Regions from separate parts of the Homo sapiens genome. Here region 2 is linked to region 1. The links come from fine-mapping of genetic effects on gene expression. Tissue or cell type: monocytes. Region 1 holds a variant in brackets; the other region holds the start of a gene. All regions are shown on one strand. Distances are from middle to middle.

Region 1 (8,000 bases):
GGAGGTGTGATGAGTGCACAGTGAAGGACCTACTGGGTGTGGTAAAGGCTGTCCAGCTATGGCAGGGGCTTTGTGGAAACCTGGCAGAAAGTTGCGATGTTTAGAAGAGTAGAGATACATAGGGCCTCAGATTTCATGTGAGATGATATGATCCTCTTCAGATAATTTACAGACTTTCTTCTGCAAACCATTTTAGATGTTGACCAGAATTTGATGGATCGCCTACAGAGAGTGAATAACACTCTGTCCAGCCAAATTAGCCGTTTACAGAATATCCGGAATACCATTGAAGAGACTGGAAACTTGGCTGAACAAGCGCGTGCCCATGTAGAGAACACAGAGCGGTTGATTGAAATCGCATCCAGAGAACTTGAGAAAGCAAAAGTCGCTGCTGCCAATGTGGTAAGTGATTGCAAACGTCTGAGGTGGGGATGGGGGAGGCCCCTGGGGTTTGTAGCAAGTCTGTTACTGGCAGTGGAGTGCTTCTTCAACTAAATTGACTCCATGCATCTTTTTATTTGTCCCTAAATATGGGGCAGAAAAGCCACATTGCTCATAGTTGGCATGAAACAGTTATTAAAAACTGGATAAAAACCAAGGGACATCTGGGTTATTTCTCTAGCTTTGTTCCTTCTATGGAACTAGGCAGTTTAATCTTCCTTTATCCTTTACTGAAAATAGAATCTGCAATCAAGGGTGCTGATATTAAATAAAGATCTCTGAAAATAAGAAGAGGTATTCTTGGGGCCAGGCGCGGTGGCTCACGCCTGTAATCCCAGCACTTTGGGAGGCCGAGGCGGGTGGATCACCTGAGGTCGAGAGTTCGAGACCAGCTTGACCAACATGGAGAAACCCCGTCTCTACTAAAAATACAAAATTAGCCGGGTATGGTGGTGCATGCCTGTAATCCCGGCTACTTGGGAGGCTAAGGCAGGAGAACCACTTGAACCCAGGAAGCAGAGGTTGCGGTGAACTGAAATTGTGCCATTGCCCTTCTGCCTGGGCAACAAGAGTGAAACTATCTCAAAAAAAAAAAAAAAAAAGGTAGAGGCATTCTTTTTGCCCTCTAACAAAAATTTAGTTTTGACTCTTGCTTTATTAAATGTAAATAATTCAGTCCTTTGAGAATAAGTGCTTTATTTCCTGTGCAGTCAGTCACTCAGCCAGAATCTACAGGGGACCCAAACAACATGACTCTTTTGGCAGAAGAGGCTCGAAAGCTTGCTGAACGGTAACTTCTAGATCCCTGTTTAATGGTTAAGTTGTGGCTTCTGTTATGGGGTGTGTGTGTGTGTGTGTGTGTGTGTGTGTGTATTGTCTTATCCCATAACCCATAAACACTTTCTACATAACCCACTTTTGCACACTTTGCTCTCTTTTCTAAGATATTATCAGCTGTGTATACTCTTTTCTTCCTTTTACTTTGACATTAGAATATTCACTTTGAATATTAGAATACAATGGTTTGAAGACAAATCATATTTATATTTCTCAAAACCATAATATTTTTAGATTTTTAACTTATTTAAGACTGTAGTAACTGAATGAAACTAGCAGATTGTTGTTAATAAAGATTAGGCATGGGATTTGTTTTTAACTAGGTAAATGATTTCTTGCTGGCATACACAATTTTATATGTACATTACTCTCAAATAATTAAATTTAAAAGTAGTTTTTCTGAAGAATTATAAACATTTTCTCTTATAAATGTATACCAATAATTTTTTTGGAAAATATTCTCATCTCAGTTTTAGAATGCTATTCATAAATTCAGCCCCACTGAAATGATCACAAAATTCCAAATGAATGACGTTTTCTAATATTTGTAGAATTGTTGCCCATGTTAGTATATGTACATATAATAAAGTAGGCCGGGAGCAGTGGCTCATGCCTGTAATCCCAGCACTTTGGGAGGCCAAGGCGGGTGGATCACCTAAGGTCAGGAGTTTGAGACCAGCCTGGCCAACATGGCGAAACCCATCTCTACTAAAGATGCATTAGCTGGGCATGGTGTGTATGCGTGTAATACCAGCTACTCAGGAGACTGAGGTAGGAGAATTGCTTGAACCGGGAGGCGGAGGTTGCAATAAGCCAAGATCACGCCACTGCACACCAGCCTGGGTGACAGAGCGAGACTCCATTTCAAATAATAATAATAATAATAATAATAATAAAGTAAGCATTACCTGAATTTTACTTATGTCCCTATCAGATGGTTGTTTCATGGCTTATTTTTTGTTTTATCTGTATAGTCATAAACAGGAAGCTGATGACATTGTTCGAGTGGCAAAGACAGCCAATGATACGTCAACTGAGGCATACAACCTGCTTCTGAGGACACTGGCAGGAGAAAATCAAACAGCATTTGAGATTGAAGAGCTTAATAGGAAGTGAGTATAATTTGAAAGTGGTTTACACCCCTTCAGGTGTTCTGGTAAGTAACACTAGTTCAATGAAAAATTAAATGCTGGTGCATTCAGGGCATACATTCATGCAGTAAGATTTCCTTTGTTAATCATGCTTTTGAAATGGAAAAGTAAGTAGAGAAGGGCATGTGAAGCCACAGAGATTTGGTTTGATTCAATTACTGTAACTACAGAGAATAGTAACAAGATGAGCCATGATACTTAAAATTGTGCACAAATAAAGAAGAAAAAATATAATAGAGTAAGTAGAGGAAACATAATTGAACTACAAATCTTTAAAGGGTGTCTGAAATAAGAAAGTATATGGTAAGCCATACATTATAGAAAATTTTTTCTTTTTTTTGTTGTTTTTGTGAGATGAAGTCTCACTCTTGTCCCCCAGGCTAAAGTGCAATGGCGCGATCTCGGCTCACTGCATCCTCTGCCTCCCGGGTTCAAGCGATTCTCCTGCCTCGGCCTCCTGAGTAGCTGGGATTACAGGTGCCTGCCACCACACCCAGCTAATTTTTGTATTTTCAGTAGAGACGGGGTTTCACTATGTTGGCCAGGCTGGTTTTGAACTCCTGACCTGAAGTGATCTGCTCACCTCAGCCTCCCAAAGTGCTGGGATTACAGGCGTGAGCCACTGTGCCCGGCCAAGCCATACATTATAAATAGAAATGATAAAAGAAAATGTAAATATGCAAAATGTTGGTATTAAAATGCAAGCATTTTAATGTAGCATTTCCTTTGAGGTTTTGGGCGTATTATCACATGATCATGTTAATCTGGTTAACATTAAGATGCTAAAAGCAGCTAAGATTGTCATTAAACCACATTATTTGTGTCTTAGGTATGAACAAGCGAAGAACATCTCACAGGATCTGGAAAAACAAGCTGCCCGAGTACATGAGGAGGCCAAAAGGGCCGGTGACAAAGCTGTGGAGATCTATGCCAGCGTGGCTCAGCTGAGCCCTTTGGACTCTGAGACACTGGAGGTATGGGGGCAGCCTGTACGCACAGCCCCACCCCGTCTCTCCCCCAAGTCTATGTGAGAGCCGACTGCTCTGCACCTCCCTCTGTCCTCCCACTGACTCGCTGGTAAAGTTGAGTCTTATTTCACATACGCTAATAGAACTTACCAAGGTAGCCAGATGTGGTGGCTCATGCCTGTAATGCCAACCCTGGGAGGCTGAGGTGGGAGGATTCCTTGAGGCCAGGAGTTCAAGACCAGCCTGGTCAACATAGTGAGACCCCATCTCTTAAAAAAACAAAAACAAAAACTTACCAAGGTAAAGAATCCTGTGATTGTAAACATTAAATAGCAAAGACTACTTTAATGATATGAACAATCACTCCTAAGTCTTTAGTGCAAATCCAAATTATAATAATACATTTGAATTGCTTAAAGCAGAGTACATGTAGACATTTACTCCCAGGCTCTGTCTAGTAGAGACCTAGAGAGAAATAAGAGAGAATGGTTTAATTAAAAGACTATAGCAGGATGTTCTGAGGCAGGTAAAATATTTTGGAATTGGTAGGATTTTATTTCATATCTGTACTCTTAATCATGGATTCTCACTCCAAGCTCTGTATAAATGGTATTTTTTTTGCATTAAGCTTGAGGTTTACTAAGTTTCACTTCTTATATCTGAGGTGTTGACTTGATTTTTACCATAAAGGTTTAGGTCTCTTTAGATATGTACAGATTGTCTGATTCTATATATTTATAATTAGAAAATAGGCAGAATTAGTCTATGATGATAAAAATCAGAACAATGGCAGGCACAGTGTTGGAAAGGTAGAGTAGAGATCGGGTGGAAAGGGAGAAAAGGGAGCTTCTTGGGTGATGGAAATCTGTATTTTGATTGGGGTGTTGGTTATGCAGAAATGCATTTGTCAAAACTCATCAAACTATATGTGGATTCTGTGAACTTCAGTGGGTGTAAAGTATATCTCATTTTT[T/A]AAAAAAGTCCATAAAATCTTGATCTGTGCAGTTCTTTTAAAAATATCATTGAGTATTAGGTGTTACAGAGTTCCTAAGCCTACCTTTTCATTAGTTTAAATGTTTTATCCAAAGTGTAGTGATCTTACTTGCTTTTCACAGAATGAAGCAAATAACATAAAGATGGAAGCTGAGAATCTGGAACAACTGATTGACCAGAAATTAAAAGATTATGAGGACCTCAGAGAAGATATGAGAGGGAAGGAACTTGAAGTCAAGAACCTTCTGGAGAAAGGCAAGACTGAACAGCAGGTTGGTTTGATTTGCAGGTCGCTTCATTTCTTGAGGCAACATTTGAACAGTCCAAATGGGTCTGTGATGATGCCGTACTTTCAGAGACAGCAGACCCCAGTGCTGAGAGAGCAGCCTAACAGATTTTATGCTGGCAAGTCTCAGGGTGGCACCTCTGGAGAGCCTTGTCTGTCCAGGAGACAGAAGGGATTTGCTTTGAGGGTTCATCCTCTCATCTGCCATGTGTTTGCAGACCGCAGACCAACTCCTAGCCCGAGCTGATGCTGCCAAGGCCCTCGCTGAAGAAGCTGCAAAGAAGGGACGGGATACCTTACAAGAAGCTAATGACATTCTCAACAACCTGAAAGGTAGAAAAGGCTGAGATAACAGGGGCAAATGCTTCCGCCACTAGAGTGATTTTTTTTTTTAATCATGACTTTTACCATATTTATTACTTCATCCCCAACTCCCTACTTTTTTTATGCTAAAGTATTTCAAAGGGAAATCCCAGAGCTCCTGTCATTTTATCCCTGCATACTTCAGTATGGATTTTTTTTTAAAGATGTTTTCTTATTAGGCAAACTCACATAACCAAGATGCCTATTTAGAGAACTTATATAGGTAAATGGAGATTATCTTTCATTTTCTCTGCCAGTGGCATCTGATTCTTTGTTGTTGTTTTTTTTTCTTCACCCCAGATAGAAGAGAAATGTGACCAATTCACTGAGCAACTGTGAATTCTTGTCTGATAAAACAGTCATAGGTTCTATAAATAGAGAAGCTTTACAGGATGCTTTACAGGGTACTAGTTGAAAATATGGGCCAGGCACGGTGGCCTGTAATCCCAACACTTCGGGAGGAAGGATCACTGGAGGCCAGGAGTTGAACACCAGTTCCTCACTGGGGAATATAGTGAGACCCCATCTCTATAAAAAAAAATTTTTTTTTTAATTAGCCGGGCATGCTGGCACATACCTGTAGTCCTAGCTACTTGAGAGGCTGAGGTGGGAGGATCCCTTGGGCTCAGGAGGTCAAGGCTGCACTAAGCAGTGATTGTGCCACTGCATTCCAGCCAGGGTGACAGAGTGAAACCTTGTCTCTCAAAAAAAAAAAAAAAAAAAGTAGTAGTTCAAAATATGGACTCTGGTGTCAGTGGGCCTTGGTTCAAAACCCTGCACCCTGCACCACAGGTCATGTAACTTCTTTAATCCTCAATTTTCTTATAAAAATGATACAGCCTATTTTATGTCAAAGACACAAAGCTCTTAACTCAGTACCCGACACACAGTAAACACTAAATAAATTGCAGCTTTTAATAATGGTTGAGGTAGTGGTAATGGGATGCTCAGCGCTCTGCATTTTAAAGCACATTGTTGAAGTAAGAATTCTATTTCCAGAAACGGAACATTTCTATAACACTAACTGGGAGACCTATTCTGTAGAGATGTGTAATTTCTAAAATTTCAGCCCATGCTCTCTTCCATTTTTTACCCTGACTTCCATTGTTCATAAAACAAAATCCAGTTGGAACTCCCTGAAAGGCCCCCTTTTTACTTGTTGGGAGTTTAGCTCAAATGTGTCCTTGAACTTGTTTCAGATTTTGATAGGCGTGTGAACGATAACAAGACGGCCGCAGAGGAGGCACTAAGGAAGATTCCTGCCATCAACCAGACCATCACTGAAGCCAATGAAAAGACCAGAGAAGCCCAGCAGGCCCTGGGCAGTGCTGCGGCGGATGCCACAGAGGCCAAGAACAAGGCCCATGAGGCGGAGAGGATCGCGAGCGCTGTCCAAAAGGTGTGCGTTTCCTCTTCTCCAAGAGTCCCTGCCCATATCTTTCTCTGGTCACTTTCCAGTTTCTTTCCAGACCCTCAGAGCCCTTGCAGATTTTTTTCCTGAACTTCAGTAAAATTGTCTTAAACCATATTTGTCTTTTTTTTTTTCTTTTGACTAGGCATGAGAGTAGGTATCCACATTGAGGAGGGGAACTCAGTAAAAGGGTGCTTTACTCTAAAATTTCTACTATGTCTCAGTGTGAGGTCTGGCTTCAGAGGTCTATAGAGCCCATTCCCACAAAAAATCAGACTTTTTCTAAATAAACATTCTTCTTTGACCTAGACAGGTGGTATTTATTTCAATACTATGTAGTGTGCCTTATCAATATAACTTTCAAGTCCCCCTTTCAAGTATATTGCCATATGTAAGCCACTCCTAGGAGAGACTTCCCATAGCTGCCATTGCTAGGATTCTTTGAAGTCATCTTCAAGAATAATGTTTTTTAGTTTGGCTTTCTCTTATTTCAAGGTCAATCTGTTTGTTTTATTTAAAAGAGAGATTGGAGCAATTTTAGAATTAGGTATTTAAGAATCAGAGAAACCTCTTAGTTTCCTTAGAACAGTTGGCTTTTGGATTAATTATATTTTATAAAATACTCATATTTCAGGATTGTGGTCTTTTTGTACATTATGATGAACTGCCAAGAATGAACCAAGCTAGCTTTGAATTTAAATTTTACCTCAGCGAAAGCATCTAATCAATATGATGTCGTAGAAAGTGTATGCCATTAAATGTTTATCATTTGCTGTCTGTATGACCCCAACTAAAAATAGCAATAATAGAACAGAAGTTTCCAGGATTAAAGAAGAGGATACAAATGAAAGTGCTAGATAAAATACAAAATGTTATTATGTGGGTAGTAATTTTTTTTATGATTATTTATAACCCAAATTGATAATGTAAGTCATGAGATAGTATAAATCAATATATTATTATTTCTGGATTATATTTTTAAGACATTTTATAAATTATAAAAGGAGCGGGAGCATACTTGAGAAAAAGGAAAGCTTTTTTAAAAAAAGTACAATTTTCTTTTGTGCCTAGAATGCCACCAGCACCAAGGCAGAAGCTGAAAGAACTTTTGCAGAAGTTACAGATCTGGATAATGAGGTGAACAATATGTTGAAGCAACTGCAGGAAGCAGAAAAAGAGCTAAAGAGAAAACAAGATGACGCTGACCAGGACATGATGATGGCAGGGATGGTAAGAGGTTTTGGTATATTTGCTCATTGGCAGAAAGTGAACAGTGTTTAATAATAAAGATCCCCCACTTGTTGAGAAGAGTCTTTTTTATATTGACTTCTGTTTTTCATCACATTGTCTCGTCAAGAATTGGGTTAGTAGCTTACATAGAAGACAAAGAATTTGGATCTTCTGCCAGGTAATTTTGTTGCACAATTGTCCTGTCCCAAAGTTACTCAGTTAAAAGTAAAACATTGCTTTACACGTTTGAGGTTTTAGGACATTAAAAGTATGTGTTTATATTTTTCACTGGGTAATTCATAAATGTTAATAAAAAAGGA
Region 2 (8,131 bases), 110 kb before region 1:
CTGCCAAACACCACACACATGGTATTCTATTTACCTAGCTTTGGGGGTATGCCAGGTGACCAAAGCCAAGCCAATCAACATCCTTCCTTGAAATTATTTATATAGATTATGAAGGGAGAAATCTCTTTTCTCTGGAGTTTCACATTTTTTTTCTTTAATTGGAGCTCTCTTGCCCATACAATAAACAATAAACAATTACATTTCCTCATCCTGCCTTTGTTGCTGCATAGAGACACTGATGATTGGGCACTAAGATCATCTTTTGAGGGACCTGAATAAAGTTTTCCCCATCCGTTCACATTTTTCTTCTAAGTACCATGTCTGGTAGATAATGAAACTCCCCTCCCCCTCCCCCTCCCCCCTCCATCCCTCCTTTTTCTCTCTGTCTTTCAGATAATAGAATTCCTCTCTCTTTCTTTCTTTCTTTTCTTTTTTTTTTTGAGACAGGTTCTCACTCTGTCGCCCAGGCTGGATGGAGTACAGTGGCGCAATCTCGCTCATTGCAACCTCTGCCTCCTGGGTTCAGGCAATTCTCCTGCCTCAGCCTCCCGAGTAGCTGGGATTACAGGCATGGACACAACGCCGGGATGATTTTTTTCCTTTGAGACAGAGTCTTGCTCTGTCGCCCAGGCTAGAGTGCAGTGGCGCGATCTTGGCTCACTGCAACCTCCGCCTCCCTGGTTCAAGGATTCTCCTGCCTCAGCTGCCCAAGTAGCTGGGATTACAGGCACGCGCCACCACGCCTAGCTAATTTTTTTATTTTTTTAGTAGAGTTGGGGTTTCACCATGTTGGCTAGGCTGGTCTAGAACTCTTTACTTCAAGTAATCCACCCGCCTCGGCCTTCCAAAGTGCTGGGATTACAGGCGTGAGCCAACGACCCCAGCCGGCCCGGCTAATTTTTGTAATTTTAGTAGTGTCAGGGTTTCACCATATTGGTTAGGCTGGTCTCGAACTCCTGGCCTCAAGTAATCCCCTGCCTCGGCTTCCCAAAGTGCTGGAATTACAGGCGTGAGCCACCGCGCCCGGCTGATAATGAAATGTCTAAGCACTTAAGAACGTGCATTCAAAAGACTGGAGTTTTTTGAAAAACAGGGTAACCTGCAGTAAAAGAAATTCTTACACACTTTCACTTTTTTTCTTTAAATACTGTCTAGTAGACTGTGGCATCTCTAGGTGGCTAAAATAATTTGTCGATAACATCAAACATCTGGTTAGTGTTCAAATTTCTCAAATTGTCTTAAAAATTTTGTTTTAACCGTTGATTTGTTTGAATCAAGATCCAAATAACGGAGCAAAATTTTTATCATCAAGCCCACTGGCTGGTTACACTTTACCTCTTTTCAAAATAGATGTTTGTCACTGTGACACATTTCCATAAGCAAGAGAATTGAGAGATTAATTCAAGGTCTCTTTATGTGCTTTACAAATATCAGATAAGCTCTGGTAATTAAGTTACGGAAAATTCGCATAAGTAATATCTTGATGTTAGTCTTGGACATTAGGACTCAAAAGGCAGCAATGACAAACCCATTTATGTTGATTTCACAGCCTTTGGGGGTCTCCTTGTCTTTATTTTGATTGTTGGAAATAGAGACCCACGCTTTGGCCACTATATAACAAAGTACTAAAAATGTATAATAATGCAAATTCACTAATATGTTTATTAAAATATAAACAAGTTTATTACAAATCTGTAGCTTTATTCACAACTAACATCCTTATTTTTGTCCTATATGCCCACGTTTGTCCTCAAGTACAACGAAGGACTGAGAGAGCATATAATCCCCTCTAGGTGTAAATGAACGTATTTATTTCGCTTCAACTCATGTATGAAAGGATTAAAAAATTATTAGTCCCCACAACTTAATTCTCCCAAAGAGAAGGTGCCAAGAATGAGGCACCTTTAGCCATGCATAATCTCCACCCATCTCATCAAATAAACGGAACAGTGATGAACATAACTTGCTAAGTAAGCTCAGCCGTGTAACAAGACCCTAGATTCCCCTCCCTTCTTCATCCTACCAGAACATTATCCTTAAGGTTTTCCTAATCAGCAGTCTGCGTCTAACTAACCCTAACTATCCAGAGTCACCTAACATATACTTATTTCCTTGTTTCAGATTCCCATTACGCCTATCTTAATGGGACAACTGGGTCCGAAATTATGCATGTGTTTTTTTGTTTTGTTTTTGCGGTGTACTTATTATCCGCACTTTATCATTAAATTCCTGAAAAGCTAGAACAAAACAAATCCGTGTCATTCACTATGTGCATCCTCTCTGCTTGGGGACGCCAAGGGTTTCAAGCTGCTGCCTCCCTGCCCTGGTCTCTGCTTGCCGTATCCAGCACTGGGTAAGCGCCCAGGTTCTGCTCCGGGACTAAAACTCATGATCTTCTGGCTCAGGTTCTGTGAACTGAGTCATTCTGGCACTGAGAATATTCCGTGACTCAGCAGGCCCGAAAAGGAGGATGTCAGAATCCACATAATTTCGAGTCTTTTAAAGGCAAGCCGAGGAACACAAACAACACAGTGGAAGAATTTCGCAGTGGGTCGTGCGTACCCAAGGGAAAAATTCATTCCATTCCCAGCCTTTTCACTTCCTTCCTTGCCCCGGTAAAACGACTGGTTACACTTTAAATCAGCGGCAGGAAATCGCTTCACGAAACTCATCTGGCTGCTGCGACCAGGCCCTTCTGATTCTCCAGGGACCGTGTCGGCCCCATGAACGCCCCGGGACCTCTGTTCGGGAGGGGCTGGAGCGGGGCCCCGGGCAGCAGCGGGCGCTCCCGGTTCGGACCCACACCTGGCCGGGCGGGGACCCTCTTGCCGCAGCCCAAATTGGCGCGAGGCCCCAGGGACGACCCCGAGCGACCTCCTGACCCGGCATCGCCCCTCTAAGGCGCCCTCCCCCGACTCCTCCCGCAATCCGGAGTCTCCCAGGCCGCGGAGCCCAAGGACCCCAGCGACTCCCGCGCGGGGAGCGGGTCTGCGAGGCCGCCCTTCCCTCCCGGCATGCACCACCCAGCCGCCCTCCCCTCCCCTCCTCTCCTCTCCCCTCCCCTCCTCTCCCCTCCTCTCCCCTCCCCTCCCCCAACCCCCTCCCCCGGCTCCCCGCCCACCTCGCGCGCCCCTCCCCCCGGGTCGCGCGCCGCGGGCCCGAGCGCGAGACGCCGCTGCTCCCGCCCCCGCCGCCTCCTGGAGTCGCCGGGGCGGACGCGCAGTCCATGGGGCGCGGTGGGCCGGGGAGTTGCCCCAGGGGCCGCGGGAGTTGCTGAGAGGAGACAGGGTTGGGCTTTCTCCTCGCCCAGACCCCACCCCACCCTGCCGACCCCACCCCCTGCTCCTTCCTCCCCGGGGGCGCGCACTCGGGCACGCGCTCGGAAGTCGGGGGTCGGCGCGGAGTGCAGGCTGCTCCCGGGGTAGGTGAGGGAAGCGCGGAGGCGGCGCGCGGGGGCAGTGGTCGGCGAGCAGCGCGGTCCTCGCTAGGGGCGCCCACCCGTCAGTCTCTCCGGCGCGAGCCGCCGCCACCGCCCGCGCCGGAGTCAGGCCCCTGGGCCCCCAGGCTCAAGCAGCGAAGCGGCCTCCGGGGGACGCCGCTAGGCGAGAGGAACGCGCCGGTGCCCTTGCCTTCGCCGTGACCCAGCGTGCGGGCGGCGGGATGAGAGGGAGCCATCGGGCCGCGCCGGCCCTGCGGCCCCGGGGGCGGCTCTGGCCCGTGCTGGCCGTGCTGGCGGCGGCCGCCGCGGCGGGCTGTGCCCAGGCAGCCATGGACGAGTGCACGGACGAGGGCGGGCGGCCGCAGCGCTGCATGCCCGAGTTCGTCAACGCCGCCTTCAACGTGACTGTGGTGGCCACCAACACGTGTGGGACTCCGCCCGAGGAATACTGTGTGCAGACCGGGGTGACCGGGGTCACCAAGTCCTGTCACCTGTGCGACGCCGGGCAGCCCCACCTGCAGCACGGGGCAGCCTTCCTGACCGACTACAACAACCAGGCCGACACCACCTGGTGGCAAAGCCAGACCATGCTGGCCGGGGTGCAGTACCCCAGCTCCATCAACCTCACGCTGCACCTGGGTAAGCGGTGACAGCCCCGTCCCCTGCTACTGCTCGCCAGCAGCCCAGCTCCCGGACCGGCTCCGTCCCAGTGGCCGGCCTCACGGGCGCAGACGGCCGCGTGTTTGCTCTCTGTTCCCCGGCATGGGCCACACAGAAACTCCTTTCTCCAACTTCTTAAATAGATACTGCTTTTAACATCCCGTGAGGGCCAGGATGTTCCGCACGAGTCTCTCTGCTTTCCTGTTCTTTCTGACTTAACGGGATTCTGGCTCTCTGATTATTCTGCATTTCGGCTGTTAGGATTGTGATTTCCCCCTTTTTTTTCTGAAGCGTTAATCAGAAACTCCCATCCCCACTTTTCTCTTTGCTAGCAAGGTCATCACAGCGCATTCTTGGATCGGAAACAAGAAGGTCCGCCTTAAACACTTTCGCCTTTAAAATGTTTAGATGTCCTTCCAGGGCTGAGGGTGATTGCTCTGTTGAGTTAAGGGGGAATTTGAGGGGAGCAAATGCCTTCGCTGCCTATATTGCCTATGTGTAATTAAAACATAAATTCACTTTTGAAGTTATTGTTCTTTATAGCTGCTCAGCCTTAATTAAGAACCACAAAGCGATTTGACTGCTAATCCTGGTGCAGAATGAACAAAAGGAAGTGCACTCACTGTAATTGCTGGGCATAGCCTTGTCCCTGGGTAAAAAGGCTCTCCTTTACTGTCTTCCCTTTTGCTTTCATTCAAAGCAACTGTAGAAACACGTGTAAGTGATGTTTCAGAAATCAGGAAAGGGATGTGTAGAAAACTTCATGGCAGGGCAGTGGATTGAGGATGGACATATGTATCTGGAAGCACCAAAAATAATGTTCGGTCTAGCTAAGGTTTTCTTCATCATTGAGATACGTAAATAGGCAGAAAGTTTCATTATTGTGTTTAACAGAGGAATCTATGTGTGAGAAACACGTTTGACTTAACACTTCACTCCCCATTGCCTTGGAAGGCTTGATTATTACCAGTAGCTGGTACTAATGAACTTCCAGAGAGAACAGACTGCCTCAAGCCATTCTTCTGTCAAGGGAGGGTAATTTTGTAAGGCTAATATCACTTAGGGGTGTTGGAAAGGAACATGTTGTAGGCAAATGGTTCTTTTGATCATGATTTTGCTGCTCTCCGGTACACTAAACTTTATGTAAGTATCAGGATTCCAGAGAAAGAATTGGACTTAACAAAAAGTACTTTGAAAAGTGGGATTAAATTATTGTGTGTGGAATAAGTGTTAGAAAAGCAGAATTATTTAACATCTTATTTGCAGTTGAGTCATTAAACAAATGAAACATTTTGAAAATAATTTCATAAAATGATACTATGAGGTATCTGTTTTTCAGGGATTGAAGAAGTAAAGTGCACTGAGTTCAGTTTTTTAAAGGTGCCTTTCTGAAGACATAGCTAGTGACCGAGGATTTCCTAAGATCTGTGAGATTGCTCTTTATTTTCTCCTGTTATATTTTTTAAGTTGGCCAAAATTATTTTTGAAATGTGTATCTAAGTATTTCTGTTTAACTTTTGACTTGTTAAAGTTTCTGTGTTCAAGTTTGAATACTCTTGAAGTCTTATTTTTTTCATTTTCAGATTTTAAAATTTTCAAAGAAAAGGCGTTGCCTGATGTCTGAAATCTCAGATGCCTGAAATTCAATTGACAATTACTGAACAACAGTCTCTTATTTACATAAAGGTGGGGTTGTCAATCTTGGCTCTCAGAATTTTCTCTTGTAGGCACTGTGTAGCTAAAGGTTATTTAAGGTGATTTCAGAGGTAGATAGATTACTCAGTGATTACTACCCTGTTGCAAAGATAATGCGGTAGAGTAACCCAGTATCAGTTACGTTAGATTGCTCCCACTGGGAGGCAGATATGTTAACTTTGGGTCATGGTTGATTAAAAGGTCAAAAGAGATCTTAGAGTTTACCTCTAACATCACTTTTTACTATGAAATGTTTTATGCTTGGACTTGGTTTTGCTGAAATTTTCCTCAACTTTTGGTAATATTCTTGCTAAATGAAATTCATAAAACTATGAGTTTAAAACTTGTAAGTTAAAAGTTAAAGTATTTTCTTACAAGCATTGTGATTAACTGTAAAAATATGTACTTTAAACTTCTAGTTTAAACTAACTTGACTAGGATACTTGACTTGTTCTTGGATCAGAAATGACATCCTGGAAGAAATCATGCATAGTGGAGGAGGTGGGAAGGGGGAAAGGTTTGTGTGTAGTGAGGTTGAGGTTTCTCTTTCTGTCCTCCCCCCCCCTTTAATGACAAGGTTATATGTATACATGTATGTTTCGATCAACAATTTATGACAAGTAGGCAAGGTGTCATGTGTCACTGTGTGTTTTGATGTTTAGCATATTCACTCCCCAACTCCAGTTACTCCATGGGCTGTAGCTAACTAATTATTTCCCATGAATTAAAGTACCGTGACTGTTTTGTGCATCTATTAAATCTCCCTCCCAGTTCAAATTTCACATACCCTTAAACAAGTGATGCATATTGTGCTTTGCTATTACAGAGCATGTGAAGCTAGAAATGAGTAGTGTGAAAGAACTAGGTCTAGCCACCACTTTTCTAGCCTTTCTTTTGATGTTGAACTTTAAATACAGTAAACTTTAAAATAAGCAGTCAAATCATACATAAGAAATGTAAGTAGTTATGTAAGTGTTTTGGCACTGACTTTTTTAAATTATGAAAATGAAACATGACATTGTAAATTCAAACAGTAAGTGTAATGACAAGTGAGTTTCTTTATCACTAGCTGCTAAGCTCCATGCCCTAGAGACCACCCTTCACAATTTCTTACATTAATATGACCCTCTAGAAATTTTTCATGCATACACATGTGTATATAAAATTATAGGATCATTTTAACTGATACTTTTTGGGAGGCTGAGGCGTATTTTAACAGATGGCAAATACAAATCTGATTATTGTGCCTGTATCATCACTTGCTGTACAAAAGCCAGGAAAATCAGTGTTGATTCTGAAAACAGCGCTCTCTTAAGCACCATACACAGTCATCCAGGGTGCAGGGTGCAGTGCATCCTCGGATAAAAAGAGTTAAAGTTGCTATGGGAACCAGAATTGCACTTTCTGCTTGTTGTGGGGAGAAATCTCCACCAGCCACTTTTCTAAGAAGAAGTCTTTTTTGTTTCACCTTCAACTTCTGGATGGATTATTCAGTTGCTGTTAAAAAGTTTGGGTTTTATGTCTTATAAGTTATAGTAAGTTTTTATCAGTACCAGTGGGGTAGTAGTTGATACTAAGATTGTAGCTAAGGATTTGCCTTTTATCAAACAGCCCCATTAATTAATTTGATAATCATTGTGGATGGAAACTTGGCAGACAGGATCCTAATCTTGAGAAAGGTAGCTTTTCCTCTTTCTAAAAACAATTAGATTAAGGAAAAGAGTGCTTATAAAACCAACCCAATCAAAGTTTATGAAACTCCTAAAATTAACACTGAAACCAGATTAGTTTCCAAGCTCCTCATAAACTGTAGGAACCAATAGTGATTAAATGAAGCTTTTAAATCTGCATCTGCATATCTTTTTTGTGTGTTTAAGTTAGAATAATTGATATATAAGGCTATTGCCTTTTATTCTCTTTGGTCCTCTGCTGAGTGTGTATGTATTTAACATGGAACAAATGGCAATTTTTCCCCCCAGGAAAACCTTTGCAAGGTGGGTTCTGACTATGTCAGGGAATAGCTCACTGTGGTGACTTCACTGTGGTATTTGTGCACCCTGAGGGGACACTATTTTAGTTTGTCTCACAAAGGCCTGATTTACATTTTGCAGGTTTCAACTTGAGAAGTTAAGGAGCTCTTCCTTAATGGCCAGCAGTTGTTGAACACAGTTTTATAAAGTTGCTGTTGGCTGCTTTCCTGTTCTACAGTTCACTGCTTTTTCTCCAAATTCCTTCTCCATTCTAAGGGCATTCAAAAAAGAATTTACACATTAGGGGAGAAGTTGGAGCTATAAGGCATTCCTCCCCCCCCCCACCTCTTCCATTTGTCATTGGTCA

Evidence for each region. PIP is the estimated chance that this variant, and not a neighbour inherited with it, causes the effect.
Region 2: it holds the start of LAMC1, and the variant in region 1 is fine-mapped to the expression of LAMC1 in monocytes (TOPMed, PIP 0.98).

What each region holds. Positions count from the first base shown.
Region 1 is chr1:183,130,148-183,138,147 of GRCh38, forward strand. It overlaps LAMC1 (laminin subunit gamma 1), which reads left to right. Exons shown (of 28, transcript NM_002293.4): 19 at 197-402; 20 at 1,152-1,231; 21 at 2,253-2,390; 22 at 3,259-3,403; 23 at 4,513-4,662; 24 at 4,895-5,009; 25 at 6,239-6,438; 26 at 7,522-7,680. Among named protein-coding and RNA genes, the nearest start is that of LAMC1-AS1, 7.1 kb to the right of the region's middle. The variant T/A (reference allele first, on the strand shown) is at 4,371.
Region 2 is chr1:183,020,057-183,028,187 of GRCh38, forward strand. It overlaps LAMC1 (laminin subunit gamma 1), which reads left to right and starts at 3,364. Exons shown (of 28, transcript NM_002293.4): 1 at 3,364-4,078. The coding sequence starts at 3,661. RefSeq lists enhancers at 824-1,323, 2,061-2,616, 2,617-3,171, 3,727-4,280 and silencers at 2,683-3,072, 3,103-3,492, 3,543-3,612, 3,633-3,772.